Linked DNA regions of Homo sapiens: region 1 is linked to region 2. The links come from fine-mapping of genetic effects on gene expression. A gene starts in region 2. The other region holds a variant in brackets. All regions are shown on one strand. Distances are from middle to middle.

Region 1 (9,494 bases), 42 kb before region 2:
ATTGGCTAAAAACCAGTCACTGTCCATTCTTACAAGAGGTTTAAGAATGTAACGAGCCCTGTAACCTGTACTTGTATGCATAGTACCCACAGCTTGATCCTGTGTCCAGCCATTATTAGTACGGAGGACTGATTGCCTGATCCTGATCAGAAGGGTGACAGAATTTTGCCCCTAGTGCTTGACATAGACACCTCAAGTGGCCTTTTCATGAAAGGGTGGTCAGACCACCAAAAGGGACAGAAAGCTGGGACACTCCATTAAGGTTATAGAGCAGACTGTATAAACTGTTGTGCCACCGCTTGCTGATAAACGTTTAATAAATGATTCTGTGTGATGCACATTAGGTCTGAGCTTTGCATTCATACTAAGTGGGTAGTAGATACCATTATCTACCAAAAAGAGTCTGAGTGGTAAATGACAAAATTGGTTGTCACTGAAAAGTTAAGACTTCTGGTACTTTTGAGTTAGTCCCAAATAACATCACTCAATCATCACCTATTTATCAAAGCAATTTTATTTGATTACTTATTCCAGGCAAATAATGAGGTTCATGTGTACAACTAAGAAATCAGACAATCCAAATAAAAGGCAGGGTAAATTAATATGAACTACACAAACAGCTAGCTAGAAAGGAACAGCAGCTCCATTCATTTTACATAGTACTGTAGAGTGATGTAGCACCATTAATCTCAAAGATATCCTAAGTACTTTCTAAGATAAGTACGTGGGTCTTTGTTCAAATGTAGCAATAGCTTAAAACTTATAGCAAGCTTGATGATCATCTTATGTTCAACTAATTTCAAATATAAAAGTATATCCGAAAAATTATTTCAGAAAAAATAGGGGCTGGGCACGGTGGCTCACGCCTGTAATCCCAGAACTTTGGGAGGCCGAGGCGGGTGCATCACTGGAGGTCAGGAGTTTGAGACCAGCCTGGCCAACATGTTGAAACCCCATCTCTACAAAAATTAGCCAGGCCCACATGGTGGCGGGCGCCTGTAGTCCCAGCTACTTGGGAGGCTGAGGTAGGAGAATCGCTTGCACCTGGGAGGTGGAGGTTGCAATGAGCCAAGATTGCGCCACTGCATTCCAGCCTGGGTGACGGAGCGAGACTCCATCTTAAAAAAAAAGAAAAGAAAAAATAGACAATTTGGGGGATGACGTGACCTTATGCAATTGGAAAAAAAAAACCATTATTGAGACTGGTTTTCTTCCATCATCTGCACTATTTGCTACTATGACCAATTTAAATTCTAAGCTTTGGATGATTTAATAGGTAGTTATTTGAACACACATACAATTTTATTTATACAAAGTTTTTTTTTTTCCCTAAACTATCACTTTTATATTTATTGGTCTGTTTAGTTTGTTCTGGCCTGAACTACAAACATGGAGGAGCAAGAGAGTTTTCATGCTACAGAACTCAACATTTTGGGATCTTTAATGATTTATTCTATTTTCTACCATTTCTAATGATCATTCTAAGCTATTGTACTGTGATAATATTGGGTTGAAATTTGTTGAACTAAAGTTTGACCCTGTTAACGAATCTAAGTTATCATGAGGCCATCTGTAAATCTGAGATTAAGCATTTTTCTAAATACCGAGGACTTTACAGTTTCATTTTAGGTTATAAACTTAGAAATTCAGAATTCCAGAGTCCCTCACCAGCCCATTTTACTAGTTAGGAGCCACAGCACATTTTCAGAAATATACCACAGCAAAATCAAAAGTAGAAAATTATATAATATTCCAGGATTATTCAATCCTGGTGGTTCCTAACCCTAACTCCCATACTTTTGCCACTTCGAGAAGCTGATCTAAACTATGCACTTTCCCCAAGAAAAATGCATGTAAACTAGAACTTCTTATACACAATTATAAAGGATTCCCTAAGGGTTCATGATTCTCAAGTTAGGAATTCCTATTTCAAAGGTGTGGAACATAGTGGAAAATAAGTTTAGCCCATTTTGATATTGCCCATCTTTACCTAATTGCTACTATAGTGAAGTAAGCATTTTAATAATGCTACTAAATTGCTGCTTTAAAACAAAGCACTCATTTTAAACACTAACATAGATTTTTAAAATTCATTCTCCTGGCTGGGCACAGTAGCTTATGCCTGTAATCCCAGCACTTAGGGTGGCCGAAGCAGCCAGATCACTTGAGGTGAGGAGTTCAAGACCACCCTGGCCAACATGGTGAAATCCCATTTCTACTGAAAATACGAAAATTAGCTGGGCATGGCACAGGCCTGTAATTCCAGCTACTTGGGAGGCTGAGGCAAGAGAATCACTTGAACCCGGGAGGCAGAGGTTGCAGTGAGGTGAGATCATGCCACTGTGCTCCAGACTGGGTGACAGAGTGAAACTCTTGTCTTCATAAAAAAATAAAAAATAAAAAAATAATAATTCTCCTGTCCCAGTTTTACAAAGTTTTAAGCCATGTACCTCTATCTTGAATTGGTTAAGTCCCTAAGGTTTAAGCTAGCAGGTAATTGTTTTCCTTTCATACATATTCTCCAGAGCTACTGAAAAATGAGCAAATTAAAATGTAATGCCCTTGTGAAAATGAACATGTGTCTATATACTGAAGAACAGATTATTTGACTTCATAAAATATACTTCTAGGTATTTTTTCACACTTGAAAACAAACACGGCCGGGTGCGGTGGTTCACGCCTGTAATCCCAGCACTTTGGGACGCCGAGGCAGGTGGATCACCTGAGGTCACAAGTTCGAGACCAGCCTGGCCAACATGGTGAAACGCTGTCTGTACTAAAAATACAAAAATTAGCTGGGCGAGGTGGTGGGTGCCTGTAATCCCAGCTACTTGGGAGGCTGAGGCAAGAGAATAGCTTGAACTCGGGAGGTGAAGGTTGCAGTGAGCCGAGATTGGGCTACTGCACTCCAGCCTGGGCAACAAGAGCAAAACTCTGTCTCAAACAAAACAAAACAAAACAAAACAAAACAAAACAAACACATGTACTTAGTGCCTCTCATCATAACACAAAATCCCAGATCATACTTTCTCCTTTTTTACTTGGAACTAGTACAATGGAAGCTTCCCACCAAGTTAACGAAATGTACTCAAAGTTCTACCTACTGGTCAGGATAGAAAATATTTTATTTCTGACAAACCCCACCATCTCAAAAGTATTTTATCAACTCCTCAGTTACCAAACAGGTTGAAGAATGCTATCTTTGAGGACTCTAATGTTGACTCATTGACATGTTGAATGGGCTCCTTAATCTAAAATAAATGCCTATCCTATAGTACAAGGTTAGACTTGTTGCTTCCTTATTAAAGAAAAACTCCACTAGTCACTCCAAAGATCTATTTACATAATGGGGTAAACATGGATACAGAAGGAATTCCTAAAGATACTTTGAAGGCTGATTTAAAAGCAAAAGATATGAAATGCAGAAATGCATACACATCCAGTATATAAAATTTAATCAAATTCCTTACTAAAGCTTTCAAAAGTTGAAGTCAGGTGATAATTCTTCGGTTCTTTCATAATCATTCATTTTTGCTCAAATAGACTATTTGTAGAACAATCCCAAAACATCTGAATAAAGGGAAAGAGTCAGCTAAGACAACAGCTTTGCCAAGGAAGCTTCAACTTGGTTATGTGATTTTATTCTTATCTTTTGCTGCTATATAAAAAGGGAATAATAGAACAAACATTTTTTTCCTTGTTGTTCTTTACTTCTAAGACTCTTTTCATGTTTTCCATGGTACAAGGTAAACATTAGAATTTACATTTTGGAGACCTAAGGGGCAATGAACAGGAGTGGGACCTGGAGGATACGGCTCTCTGGCAATTCAAGAATTTCAACTCAATGGTAAAGGGCTTGCAAGAGAAAATGGACTGCTATTTCTCCACTTGCTAGATGGCATCCCGTGAGTCCTATAATACACGAGGTGTCTTCCCCACACTACTCAATGTACCATTTTGGGTTTTTCCTACTGGACCTACTAAATGCTGAGTGAAATCTAAAGAAGGTGGTAGATACTAGCATTCCTGGCTGTGTAATCTATACATTTTCATTTTAAATATAGTAATTCAAGCATAATCCATATTTAAAAAATTAGACTAAGGAGAGACAATAAAGGTTTTAAACGTTTCTCTTTGAAAAGATGGTATCTTACAGTACATACAAAAATACTCTGAAAATACATACGACTTCATTTACAAAACACTGAATCAACATATTACAAGAATTACATGGTTATGGATTTTAATAAACTGAGCATGCATTCATGAAACTTAAAAAATATTAAGAAATGCATTGAAAAAAGCAGCGTAAAAAAAGACAACTCATATAGTTAAATAAAAATTACAAAGGTCCTGAGCCAATTAATGGTTGGTAACAATGTCATTCAAAATGCCTTTAGGTTTCAATAAAATCCACTGCTTATTTCTGCATGCCTAGTCCGTGAAGAAACTATTTGAAGTTGTGGGGTAAATAATGATCAGGAATTATCATGCCAAGTTAATTTTACACCTCAAAAATACAAGTGTGCCATACTTAAAGGTTATCTTATTGTTGATGCTGGAATGAGTTGCTCCTCAGTAAAAAATACCAGTCAACTAACAAGAATGGCATGAAATAGGATATGTAACAATTTTACCATTCATATACTGACTTTCAGTATCCTGGTTATATTTTGATTTTTAATAAAGATGCATTTCAAAGGCCTCCATGGGAGGCAAAATATAGAGAATTTATGGTGCCCAACTCTTATGTAATCACTGGACTAATCTTCCCTGGTAACTATGCAACATTTGGACAGAAAGGCACACAAAAAAGTTTAAATATTTCATGTGCCAATCTGGAAAAAAATAATTTAAATCAACAGAACAGACAGTACATCTACACAAATGAGGAAAGCAGAAAAGATACCTCACATTCATTTATCTCAGGTTTCAAAGTGGCTTCAATGCTAAAGTAAATGTATTAACATTTGGAAAATACAAGACAATTTTTTTGTTTGTTTTCAATTTTTTTAGCTCTATACAATGATTACAACATAAGACAAAAAAA[G/A]AAAAACACAAAAAACAAAACAAAAAAGGAGTTCAGGACTTGTTATCAGTGTCCAAGTGGCTAAGAACTGGTTCCCATAACAAGCATTGAAAGTTAAGGCAGTAAAACCCCCAAATGCAAAGCTGTAATACTGTAGATGGCAATTTGACAGCAGGTGATCCTCAGAGAAGTGTATGTAGCAATCAGTGAGAGAATGCTACAGCATCTACAGGTCAAAGTTTGACAGTTCAAAAACCACTTCAAGGTTATTAGACTGAAGGCTGTCACTTTCACCTTATTTCACGTATGACAGCCACTTCTATTTAAAAAACAAGTGGCTGCATCTATGCCACTAAATGATTGCTTGTTCACTTAAGTGAGGAGGCACTGCTTTTACCGATTAAGGGTCAGTCGAATGGAATTTTTGATGACACGGATGTTGTTTGCTGGAACTGGAGATGATGAATCTGGTAGTTCTTTACTGGGTAGTCTCTATTAGAAAGAAAGAGGAAACAAAAAAGGAAAAGCACATCATATATATTATAAAGGCCCAGCTAGAAAGTCAGTCACAAAACTTGGGGAGTTTTTCTCCCAAACCCTCTAGCTCCTAAACACTCAAGTATGCAATGAATATTTCCTTCCGTGTTCATAGGGAACTCTTGCTTTCGGAACTGCTACTTCTTTTTACAGTCAGAGGTGAAAAGCAGAGGGATAAGAGAAAGGGTAGAAGTGGCAGGAGTGTGAATATGTACAGGAAAAGAGGAACTGCCATGCCTGGATCAAGAAATGCATAAAGAACACAGTCCTTAAGGTCAAGCAAAGAAAAAAAAAAGGAAGTTCATGGTGACTAAACAGGAAGCTCTTGGGGTGTGAAGTGAAAAATGAGTGTGTGCAGTAGAGAAAAATTTAATATCTGAGAGTTATGTCCCTCAATTTGTTTCTGTAATACATTCATGAAGAAGACCACTGACTCAATCTGTGAGATACTTAAGTTCTCAGGAAAACTGAACTTTGTACTTAGGCTAGATAACTTTGATGGTTATGAAATTCAGGGACATCGGTTTGAGGGATTCTGAGGGCATTAAAGATTATTACATAAAGAAGGCAAAATCTAGGGCCGGGCATGGTGGTTCACGCCTGTAATCCCAGAACTTTGGGAGGCCAAGGCGGGCGAATCACTTGAGGTCAGGAGTTCAAGAGCAGCCTGGCCAATATGGTGAAACCCTTTTCCACTACAAATACAAAAATTAGCCACTACAAATACAAAAAGATCGCGCCATTGCACTCCAACCTGGGCTACAGAGCGAGCCTCCATGTCCAAAAAAAAAAAAAAAAAAAAAAAAAAGGAAGGCAAAATCTAGACTTCTGTAATGGGGATAGTTTCTTGTCAAGAGATGACTGCTTAATTCTCCTCTTGTTTTACCTTGGCTAAGCCAGTATCTGTATCATATCCATATGCATTAAAACAATTATGAGCAATTTCAGATATACAAAGAAGTAGACACCAGGGCAATAAGGACTTAAATGCCAAAACCAAGTTTCAGACATTATTACAATTTTGCTGCAATTGTTTGGTGTACCCACTTTCCCTTTAGACTGGATATATTAAAAAATCCAGATATGTCATTTCACTCTTTTGTACTTCAATATCCATCTCAAAATTTTTTCTTCCACCATGACACATAATTATACGTTCATATTTTTTGTAACTTAATCTTATGTTAAAGGCTCAAAATCTACAACTAATAGCCTGTGAGTATACTATTTTGCTTTAGAATAGCTACTACATCCTGGAGAACCTGGCAGGGTAACAGTTGATGAAAAGCACTTTACTATTTAATGGCCATTCTGTTTTATTATAAATTATAATTTATAATTATCATCATATATATTTATAATTATTTATCATTATTATAAATAAGCCATTCTGTTCATTATAAACTCTCAGAGAAGGTTTTTCTCTATTTACACAAGGCTGGTTTTTGAGTACTTGCTTTTTAGCATACCACACTTAATACTACACACATTTTTAGTTATAAAAGTAATTCTTCAAATAATAAACATTTAAATTACAATTTAGGGGCGTTTAGCTCATGTTTTAAAGGTACTTACTATATATACCACTACATTTGGTTCCTCTAAAATATTAATACATATGGTTCCTAATTATCAAACCTATGTTTTGGCAGTAAGCAATAGTACACAACAGAGATATACCTCCAGGTGCTTGGTAAGAAATTAATGTGCTGAGCATCCAACTGCTTCTTTAAAGATAAAAAACAAAGGGTGAACATAATCTAAATAGATAATAAAGTTGTCTTAAACTACTGCCTCTTTTTTAGACTTTTGAGGTACATACATTCAGAACTATATACTTGCTATCTCCAACCCCAACTACACTGCTAGTCCTTGGGGACAGGGACAAAATCTTACTTTTTCCCAGTGCTAGGCTCTTAATAAGCCTTTTGTACTTGTAGATTACCTATGAGTTTTTACCTATGTACTGTACCTATGAACAAGACTATCTTGTTACCTTTTTGCGTGATGTATCAATAGTTGGAATAGGCATAGATTCTCCTCCAATGGCATCCTAAAAACAGAAGAATCAACACAAGTGAAAACTAACTTTCCTATATGCAAACACTTATTTCTACTTAAAATAAAACCTAACGAAAACCTGAAAATAAATCTAATCTGACCTACTTTCTAATATGGCACTTTTCCTGATACATGGCGCTTTACAATAAATATTCTGAAGCACACTATTAATATATTTACCACTGATTTTCTTTTTCTTTCTTCAGCAGTGCGGGGGTCCTTAAATGTTGATTCAAGTCGAATAAACTAAAATATAAACATTGAAATAGATTGCTATTATGTACCTACAAAAACCCATATAAATCTATATAAACTGGAAAACTAGTTATTGGTTACACTATTATAAAAATTACTATAAACATGGATTGGTAAGAGAAGATAATTTAAATTAGATTGAATTCAACTGCCACCGTTAATTTCTACAGTTTGGGTGATCTTTTTGGTTAAATCAATTCAGATTCTAACAAATATAGTTTTACCACCACCTACTGGAAGCAGGGCATATCAACACACAAGAAATGAGATTTTGTTATCAGTAATGACTTCTGTAAATCAAGGAGAAACTCAGACCAATCATTCAAATTTTCAGACGTATTAGTAATTTCAATTTAGGATGAGCAATTAATATTGTTTCTTTAAGATTTGGGTAAATATTCTTTTCAGCCAACTCCTAACAGAACACCAACAGCTATGGAAAATTGTTTCTTTAGTATTAACTATAAAAAATATCAACTACTGAATTACCACTAAAGTTGTAACTTTACCTTTTCTACGTCTTTCAACCTCTTAGGAGTCCCATCTATGGATGGGGAATGGGATCTCTTAGGTGTAACAGTCTTAGTTATATTTGACATTCCATTCAGATGCGGTTGTCCCTGGGCAGGGTTGTGAGGTGTTGTGATTCTAGGAATGACATTTCGTCCTACTACGGTAGGAATGGTACACACAGTGGGGGGTGATACAGTTTTTACTGTAGAGTCAACTTCTGAAAAGGAAAAAAAGGATTTTAATAATTAAACATTTATGTAATTTTTTTTTCCTTGAGACAGGGTCTCTCATTCCCATCACCCAGGCTGCAGTGCAGTGGCTTGATCACAGCTCACTGCAGCCTTGACTTCCCAGGCTCAGGTGACCCTCCCACCTTAGCCTCCCCAGTAGCTAGGACTACAGGCGTGTGCCACCATGCCTAGCTAATTTTTTGTAAATATAATTATTAATATATACAAGTTTAGATACCTACTTGCGCCAATCACTGGAATGGAAAGTCCTTGGGCTGGTGGTACACTCAGTGGCTTCTCCACAATTACAGCAGCAGGCTCAGCACTATTCCTAATGAAAGTGTTAAATTATCATCAATAAATGATTTAAATATTACTTTTTTTCTCCTTTTTTGAGAAAAGGCCTCATTCTACTGCCCAAGTTGGAGTGCAGTGGCACAATCACAGCTCACTGCAGCCTCAACCTCCTGGACTCAAGTAACTTTGCCACCTCAGCCTCCCAGGTAGCTAAGAACATAGGTGTGTGCCATCATATCGGGTTAATTTTTTAAATTTTTATTTTTGTGGAGACAGGATCTCACTATGTTGCCCAGGCTGGTCTTGAACTCCTGAGGCTCAAGCAATCCTCCTGCCTCAGCCTCCCAAAGTGCTGAAATTATAGATGTGACCCACCACGCCTGGCCCCATTAGTTATTTAAAACACTCTTGTTGTAACATTTACCACTGCTTTTTTTTTTTTTTTTTTTTTTTTTAGACATGGTATTGTTCTGTCACCTAGGCTAGAGTGCAGTGGCATGAACACATGGATCACTGCAGCCTCAACCTTCCGGGCTCAAGCTATTCTCCCACCTTGGCCTCCCAGGTAGCTG
Region 2 (9,494 bases):
TTTCCTCCTAGGGCTATTATAATGGCTTGCTAACTGGTTTCTCTGCTCTGCCCTTGCACTTCTCCTAAGATTACTCTCAATACAGCAGCCAGAGTGACTGTTAAAACTTTTTTAAGTCATCATGTCAATCTTCTTTTCAAAACCCTAATAGCTTCTCATTTCACTCAGAATAAACCAAACCTTGACAACACCTTACAAGGTCCTAAGAGCTCTTGCCCTCCAAGCTCCTTCCCACCTTGCTTTCATTAAGCCTATATTTTCCTGCTTCCTCACTGCTCAGACACCCAGGGTATCTTGCTATGCACTCTTCAAATACACCACTTCAAGAGTTCTGCCTAGAACACTTTTCCCTCAGATAGACACATGGCTCCCTCCTTCATCTTTAAATTTTCCCTTAAATGTAACTTTCTCAATGAGGCTTTCCCTGAAACCTCTACCCCCTCAGCTTTTTCTCAGTAGCACTTATCATGTGTAATATTACTCATGAGTGTCATACTGATATTATTGATGACAAATCTCTTCTTCTAACCCCTACCTAAAATGTAAGCTCCAAGAGGGCCAAGATTTTTCTTTTTGTCATTTCTGCACCTGTATCTAGAGACACAGTAGGTATTCAATATGTTCGCAGAATTAATGATTAAATAATGCACTGTCAAATATTTTATGGTTTTCAATGACATACCTGTGGTTCAATTCTTCCTCATCTTCAAACACTCCAAATGGTTTCATGGCGTCAATTAATTTCTGTGTGTAAATATGATCAATTTCTTTAGGAGATGCCAAACTAATTGGGGAGGTAATTCCATAATGCTTTTGTTGACGCTGGCTGTCCAGCACGGTGTTTCTGTTCAAGAAAATAAGAAAAATGAAACAAAAAATTTAAAGTATATACCATACTGATACACTGAATCTCTCAATCTACTCATGTTAATTTAGCTACCTTAAAAGTTTACTTAGTAATAACAGTAGTGGCAGACACTTTCTTGTAAAGGAAAAATGGGTATTTTATGTTTATGTTTATGAAGGGGCTATTCATACTGCCTGCAGCTTTCATGGTTAGGATGTTTTTTCAAGCCAAGCGCAGCATGTGTTGGCATCAAGACAATTGTACCAACACCACTCAGCTCAAACCCAGAGTTTGATTGGGATCTGTGCCAGGGCCACCTCCACTACCCTGCAGACTTAAGTCAAGTGCCATCCAGATTCTAGAATCTTTGAAAAGCAGTCAACCACTTGAAATAAAGCTTTTAGTAAAAACAATGGGTTTTTTTCCCCAGGAAAGAAATGAAAACATCCCATTAGAAGGTCCTTGTGAAATAATCTGGCTTTTAAAAAGAAATCACAATTAGATTTGTCCTTGGGAAACCGAGGTTAACATCCTCTGCTTGAATCAGAGTTTACAGTCCTAGTACTTTGTGATTCTAGTTAATTATTCTCTTCATTTTAGACTGGTACCCATACCATCTTCACATTGAAATAAAATTCTTTATACTACTGGCAATCTTTTGGAAGATACATGAGCCACCCTCCAAACATCTTAGCCATCAAGAAACTACGGTCTTGAATAAAGTACAACAGAAGTTCTGAGACTTTTTTTTCTTTTTTTTTTTGAGATGGAGTCTCTCTCTGTCTCCCAGGCTGGAGTGCATTGGGGAGATCTCAGCTCACTGCAACCTCTGCCTCCTGGGTTCAAGCAATTCTCCTACCTCAGCCTCCCAAGTAGCTGGGATTACAGGCATGTGCCACCACACCCAGCTACTTTTTGTATTTTTAGTAGAGACGGAGTTTCGCCATGTTGCCAGGCTGGTCTCGAACTCCTGACCTCAGGTGATCCAACAGTCTCGGCCTCCCACGGTGCTGGGATCACAGGCGTGAGCCCCCGCGCTCAGCCAATTCAAGTTCTGAGATTTTGAGTTTACACAAACTAATCAACTTCAAAATAAATTCTGGGACCAACAGGGGTTGGCAAAACTTCTAATTTTGCTATGAAAGTAAAAACATACACACTAAACGACCAACACTACCATTTATCTTCACCATGCTTCCATGAAGGGCCATTAACACCAAGAGTAAGAATGTAATCTCAAAATTAGAAACAATCTTTCAAGTTGAATAAATTAGCCCTGTAAAAAATAACATACAATAGAGATTGTTTAATTGTTTTTGGATTCTAACTGGTCAAAACACTGTCTTACCACTACTAAGTACACAGAGTAAGACACGCTGTAATAGCTAAAGATCTCATTAGAGGCCGGGCGTGGTGCCTCATGCCTGTAATCCCAGTACTCTGGGAGGCCAAGGCAGGTGGATTACTTGAGGTCAGAAGTTCAAGATCAGCCTGGCCAACATGGTGAAACCCCGTCTCTACTGAAAATACAAAAAATTAGCTGGGCATGGTGGCGGACGTCTGTAATCCCGGCTACTCGGGAGGCTGAGGCAGGAGATTCGCTTGAACCCAGGAGACGAAGGTTGCAGTGAACCAAGATCGCGCCACCACACTCCAGCCTGGGCAACAAGAGCGAAACTCCGTCTCAAAAAAAAAAAAAAAAAAAAAATCTCATTAGGCAGAGAGGGAGAAAGAATCAAATGGAAGATAAAATAGCCTGTATACCTTCCAAAATGACTCAAAAAAAAAAAAAAAAAAAAAAACCCCAGAAACCAAAATACTGGTTAATTTATCTTCTGTATTTATTTTGTTGTAGAACAAACAAAACTTCAATTAGTTATTTCAAGTGGTAATTTCTTTTTAAAGATTTGGCTTTTTACCTCTGAGAAAGCTAGAGCAGTGTTTTGGTATTGTTTGTGTAATACATATGTAAATATATACGGTAAGTGAATAGGACAGAGTAATTATCTACATATCTATATAGTATCACTCAATCGCAATAATCCTAAGGGGTATTGAATAAGTGCCATTTTACAGATAAGTACCTGAAAGTCAAAGAGAGGACAAGCCAGAATCTGAACTCCAAAACCTCTTTCCACTACTCCATTCTCTCCTCTCTAACTACTTCAGCTCTGACACCATGATGACGGGCCTCACTTTTTTACCTGTATGCTGACAAAGTTGGCCAACTAGCCTACTGGCCCTAAAATTCCAAATCCAGGTTCTGAACTTCCCCCATCTAGAGGGGAGGGGAAAGTAAACAACAGAATCCCACATTCCCTTCAAACCATCAATTTCACTTACAGGCAAACAACCTAGAGAAATTCTAGTTACAAGCGTACAAAGAGACACCTAAAAGAACGTTCACTGTCACATTGTAACATTAAAAACTTAGAAATAAAATAGTCACTAACAGGAAAAGAATTAAATTAGGGTGTTTTCCTACAATAGAATACAATACAATAATTAATATTAATTAATTACAACTAAAATACTAACATGAACAAAGCTCAGAGATACTATGTTGTGCTAAAGAAGTTACAGAATTCCAAGTGTGATACGAGTTATATAAAGTTTAAAAACAACTAGAACTATGCCAGTTATTATGAACACATGTGTATGTAGTAATAGCATTAAAAAACATGCAGCTCCCATGATTCGAGGGCGGAAAAAAAAGAAGTAAAATAAAAAACAGGCAGCAACGATAAACATCAAATTCAAGACTGTGGAGACATCTGGAGCAAGAGATGATTGGGACCAGAGAAGGAGGTAGGAGAGTCCTTCAGATGTATCTGGAATGCTTGATTTCTTTTTAAAATAAATACACAGATACGTATATACACACCGTGTGTGTGCGTGTGTGCATGTACGTGTATGTGTGTACAGTTACGTTTTGGGAGAAATGGGTGGTGGCTCCACAAATGATGCTTATGTTATTCTCTACATTTTTCTGCATGTTTAAATTATTTCCTAATAGACCAAAATGGAAGAAGCTACAACAAAATCTTGCCAAGTACGGGAACTGTTTCTGACTTATCAAAGTGTGAACAAGAGGTACAGACCGGTAGATGTTGTGGGTAGGTGGGGAAGCAGGGGGTGAGGGAGAGGGTGGGGACGGCGGTGAAAAGACTGTAGCCTCATATGAAAGAGAAACCCTTGGGCTGCGATAGGTCTTTCACTCCTGAAGACCTGGAGACAGCCGGTCGGGAAGGGAGGAGGGGGAGGCAGGGGGATGGTATTTGCGCCAATGCAGACAGGAGCAGACGGGCTCAGACAGTGCTGGGGGCAGGCGAGTGACCGACAATTTCTCCCTACGGACACAGGCACCTCTTTCCCTCCTCATCCTTTTCTGAGGGCGTCCTCGGAGGCGGGACAGCTGGGGACTCCCGGAGTCCCCGAGTCCGTGCAGGGGTGGCCAGGTGAGCCGCCGGGTTTAGGGGAGGTGCCCTTGCGGACCGGCCGGGAGCCGGGAAGGAGACCATCCCGGCGAGCTGCGTGCAGGGCGCAAGGGACAGGGAACGGAAACAAGGACACAGTCGGACCACCTCAGCTCACCCCTACCCGCCTCACCCCAACCGCCGCCCCCCACCACTTACGCAGACATCTCTTTCATCGCTTCCTGCGTCTCCCTCTCCAGCGAGTGTTTATCGCTCTGGAGTCCTGTTCTTGCTGTTCCCTTCTCCCCCTGTTCACTTTCCTCCGGTCGCTAGTAGCTCGCTTGCTCGCTCACTTTCCCACTTACTATGGCTGAGGCATCCAACCGAGTAGTGAAAACACCACAAAACCGGCTCTATTTATGACAATACAGCGCGGCCGACGCCAATATGGCGCCGCTTCCCAGCCTGCCTCTCGCAGGTCTCAGCCCCGCCCCTGGAGGTCTGGACCACCCTCAGCCACGCCCCCTCTGCCTTTAGGTCCCGGGAGGCTCCGGGGCCCCGCCCACAAGCTCAGGGCTCTCAGTATACCGTTGGTTCGAAGGAGTATTTATTTGGTACTCTCCTTTGTCCGCGGTACTGTCAATGCCGGTAGACCGCTTGGAAGGAAATTTGGAGATATGTTTTCCTTGCCTCTCGAATGGCAGCATATATCATACATTTTTTAAAAAGGTCACACCCTTGCCTAGCAAAAACTATTTCAACGCCTCCGTTATCCTACATCTTTGATTTAATTATAGTTATACATAATTAACTCACCAGTTGAGATTTTGTCTCGAAAGGGTCACACCCAGGAACATACGACTTTCACACAAGTATCCCAGGGAAAAACAAGCTTGTAAATTGGAGGCTTAACTGTTCACTTCACCCCTAAGTACCACCTTTGATTAGTGACATTCTGGCATTTAGCTGACAGAGGTTGAAAATAGTAGCTAGCAGTTTGCAATAGGATAAATCCCAGGCTGAAACAAAAATCTTACACTTTTAAATAGTGGAAATCATGTTCGATGTGAGTGTGGGGATGAAAATGAGAAAATAATAACCAATTTTAAAATGCTGAAAGGTAGAAGTAATTTCAAGCACTAAATCATTACAAAGAAAAGGAAGTCAAGAACTGCTTGCTCTTGAACATAACTCAGAGTCACAGTAAATAGAGGAGATTACTTGCTGATTAATTCATTAAAAAATATTTATTGAGGCAAGATACAGTGGCTCACACCTGTAATCCCAGCACTTTGGGAGGCCAAGGTGGGAGAATTGCTTGAGGCCAGGAGTTCGAGAACAGCCTGGGCAACATAGTGAGACCCTGTCACTACAAAAAGTTTTAAAAAAATTAGCTGGGCATGGTGGCCCATGCCTGTAGTCCCAGCTACTCAGGAGGCTGGGGTGGGAGGATCTCTTTGAGTCCAGGACGTGGAGGCTGCAGGAAACCAGGATGGCACCACTGCATTCCAGCCAGAGTGATAGAAGGAGACCCTGTCTCAAAAAAATAAATAAATAAATAAATAAATAAAAACTACAAAACATATTTTTGAAAACCTGAGCAAGGTGCAGTGGCTCTTGCCTGCAATCCCAGTGCTTTGTGACGCCAAGGCTGGTGGATCACTTGAGGCCATGAGTTCTATTAAGACCAGCCTGGCCAACATGGCAAAAACCCATCTCTACTTAAAAGCAACAACAAAAACCTGACGTGGCCTGGTGTGGTGGATCACACCTGTAATCCTAACATTTTGGGAGGCTGAGGCGGGTGGATCACTTGAGGTCAGGAGTTCGAGACCAGCCTGGCCAACATGGTGAAACCCCATCTCTACTAAAAATAGAAAAACTAGCTGGGTGCGTGGTGCGCCTGTGATCCCGGCTACTCAGCAGGGTGAGGCAGGAGAATTGCGTGAACCCGAGAGGCAGAGGTTTTTTTGAGATGGAGTCTCGCTCTGTTGCCCAGGCTGGGGTGCAGTGGCGTGATCTCTGCTCAGCCTCCTGAGTAGGTGGGATTACAGGCATGCACCACCACGTCCAGCTATATTTTTGTATTTTTAGTACAGACGGGGTTTCACCATGTGGGCCAGCTAGTCTCAAACTCCTGACATCAGGTAATCCGCCCACCTCGGCTTCCCAAAGTGCTAGGATTACAGATGTGAGCCACCACACCCAGCCAAGCAGTGTTTTATTATTTATTTATTTATTTATTTTTGAGATGGAGTCTTGCTCTGTCACCTAGGCTGCAGCACAGTGGCATGATCTTGGCTCACTGCATCCTCTGCCTCCTGGGTTCAAATGATTCTCCTGTCTCAGCCTCCCGAGTAGCTGGGACTACAGGCGTGCGCCACCACGCCTGGCTAATTTTTTGTATTTTAGAGATGGACTTTCACCATGTTGGCCGCACATCTCAGCCTCCCAAAGTGCTGGGATTACAGGCGTGAGCCACCGCTTCCAGCCTAATTTTTGTATTTTTAGTACAGACAGGGTTTCACCATATTGGTCAGGCTAGTCTTGAACTCCTGACCTCGTGATCCGCCAGCCTCAGCCTCCCAAAGTGCTGGGATTACAGGCGTGAGCCACCATGCCCGGCCACGGTGTTTTAATCAATTGCTTTTCTTCCCATTTTCCTGTCTTTGTTAATCTACCTGGGATTTAATGACAGTCCCTAACCCCCATCTCAATAAGGATACTGTATTTTTCCCAACCCCAATTTCAATAAGGACATTTTTCTTATTTGCAGTGTATATTGTAACTGTATTTGTTAAGTTAAAAATTTTCAAATGACAAAACTAACCCATGCGCATAAAAAAAAAGAGCGGACGTCTGTCCCTCCTTTCCATCTCTTGCCCAGGCTGGAGTGCAGTGATGTGATCTCAGCTCACTGCAACCTCCACCTTCCGGTTTCGAGTGATTCCCCTGCCTCAGCCTCCTGAGTAGCTGGGTTTACAGGTGCCCGCCACTATGCCCAGCTAATTTTTGTATTTTTAGTAGAGACAGCATTTTGCCATGTTGGCCAGGCTGGTCTTGAACTCCTGACCTCAGGTGATCCGCCTGCCTCGGCCTCCCAAAGTGCTGAGATTACAGGCGTGAGCCACCGTGCCCGGCCTGTATTTTATTTTTGAGACAGACTCTCCCTCTGTTGCCCAAGCTGGAGTGCAGTGCTGTGATCTTGGCTCACTGCAATGTCCATCTCCTGGGTTGAAGCCATTCTCCTGCCTCAGCCTCCCCAGTGGCTGGGATTACAGGTGCGCGCTACCATACCTGGCTAATTTTTGTATTTTTAGTAGAGATGGAGTTTCACCATGTTAGCTAGGTTGGTCTCAAACTCCTTTCCTCAAGTGATGTATCCGCCTAGGCCTCTTAAAGTGCTGGGATTACAGGCGCGAGCTACCTCGCCCCGCTGACATGTATATTGTAAAATAAAATTTATATACTTGAAATTGTCCTCTTAGAAGTTTATACCAGTATATGCTCCAATATGTATGTGATGATCTGTTTTCTCAAACATTCACAAATACTGGGTATTATTATTATTATTATTATTATTTTGAGACAGAGTTTCGTTCTTGTTGCCCAGGCTGGAGTGCAATGGCGCGATCTTGGCTCATTGCAACCTCCGTCCCCTGGGTTCAAGCGATTCTCCTGCCTTAGCCTCCCGACTAGCTGGGATTACAGGTGCCCACTGCCACGCTGGGCTAAGTTTTTGTATTTTTAGTAGAGACGGGGTTTTGCCATGTTGACCAGGCTGGTCTCAAACTCCTGACCTCATGTGATCCACCCTCCTTGGCCTCCCAAAGTGCTAGGATTACACGCATGAGCCACTGCACCTGGCCAAATATCTTTTTTTTTTTTTTTTTATGGCTGGATATGGTGGCTCCACGTGGTGGCTCCGGCCTGTAATCCCAGCATTTTGAGAGGCTGAAGCGCGTGAATCACTTGAGGCCAGGAGTTCCAGACCATCCTGGCCAACAGGGTGAAACCTGACCTCTACTAAAAATACAAAAATTAGCTGGTCATGGTAGTGCACGTCTGTAATCCCAGCCAGTTGGGAGGCTGAGGCACAAGAATTGAGTGAACCCGGAAGTGGAAGTTGCAGTGAGCCAGTACACTCCAGCCTGGGTAACAGAGGGATACTGTCTCAAAAAAAAAACCAAACCAAAACAAAACAAAAAACAAAAAACCAACCATAAAAGCAACTTTTGGCCAGGTACAGTGGCTCACACCTGCAATCCCAGCACTTTGGGAGGCCGAGGTGGGTTGATCACTTGAGGTCAGGAGTTCGAGACCAGCCTGGCCAACATGGTGAAACCCCGTCTCTACTAAAAATACAAAAAAATTAGCTGGGTGTGGTGGTGGGTGCCTGTAATCTCAGCTACTCTGGAGGCCGAGGCTGGAGAATGGCTTGAACCCAGGAGGCGGAGGTTGCGGTGAGCCGAGATCTCGCCATCGCATTCCAGCCAGGGCAACAAGAGTGAAACTTCGTCTCAAAAACAAACAAACAAAAAAACCCAAAAAACAACTTTTTAATTTGGCTGGTTGTGGTGGCTTATGGTTGCAATCCCAGTACTTTAGGAGACTAAGGCAGGAGGATCCCTTAAGCTCAGGAGTTGAGACCAGCCTGGACAACTGCAAAACCACAACTCTATTTAAAAAAAAAGTTTTTATGCTTATAAAAAAACTATAAATATACAGAAAAAGTAGAGAGAATAATATAATTAACACCATATACCCATCATGTAGAATTTTTTTAGCATTTGGTCATGTTTCACACATTTTTCAGTGAAATCTTTTTAAGTAAACACATAAAATTTTACTCCTAAATATTTTGATATGCATATCTAATGAGAACACTTTCCTGTACAACCATAATAATATTAATACACTCAAGTATTTCCACTTGTTGCCCAAATATCTTTTGCACCAAGCTTGTTTATAGTGTGATCCAATCAAGAAGTATGATTGCATTTGGTTGTTGGGTCTCTGAAATGGCTTTTTTTTCCTTAAAAGTATTTTTTAATTAGCTGGGCGTGGTGGCAGGTGCCTGTAATCCCAGCTACTTGGGAGGCTGAGGCAGGAGAATTGCTTGAGCTCGAGAGGTGGAGGTTGCAGTGAGCTGAGATCGCACCACTGTACCACTGCACTCCAGCCTGGGCGACAGAGCGAGACTGTCTCAGAAAAAAAAAAAAAAAAAAGGG

Evidence for each region. PIP is the estimated chance that this variant, and not a neighbour inherited with it, causes the effect.
Region 1: its variant is the best candidate, but not a certain one, in a credible set for the expression of PAPOLG in blood mononuclear cells (TOPMed, PIP 0.78).

The regions. Positions count from the first base shown.
Region 1 is chr2:60,793,089-60,802,582 of GRCh38, reverse strand. PAPOLG (poly(A) polymerase gamma) reads right to left here. Exons shown (of 22, transcript NM_022894.4): 18 at 8,868-8,956; 19 at 8,392-8,612; 20 at 7,808-7,873; 21 at 7,563-7,619; 22 at 497-5,521. The coding sequence ends at 5,423. Among named protein-coding and RNA genes, the nearest start is that of PAPOLG, 42 kb to the right of the region's middle. The variant G/A (reference allele first, on the strand shown) is at 5,051.
Region 2 is chr2:60,751,484-60,760,977 of GRCh38, reverse strand. PAPOLG (poly(A) polymerase gamma) reads right to left here and starts at 4,710. Exons shown (of 22, transcript NM_022894.4): 1 at 4,483-4,710; 2 at 683-844. The coding sequence starts at 4,499. RefSeq lists enhancers at 1,351-1,850, 4,485-4,794.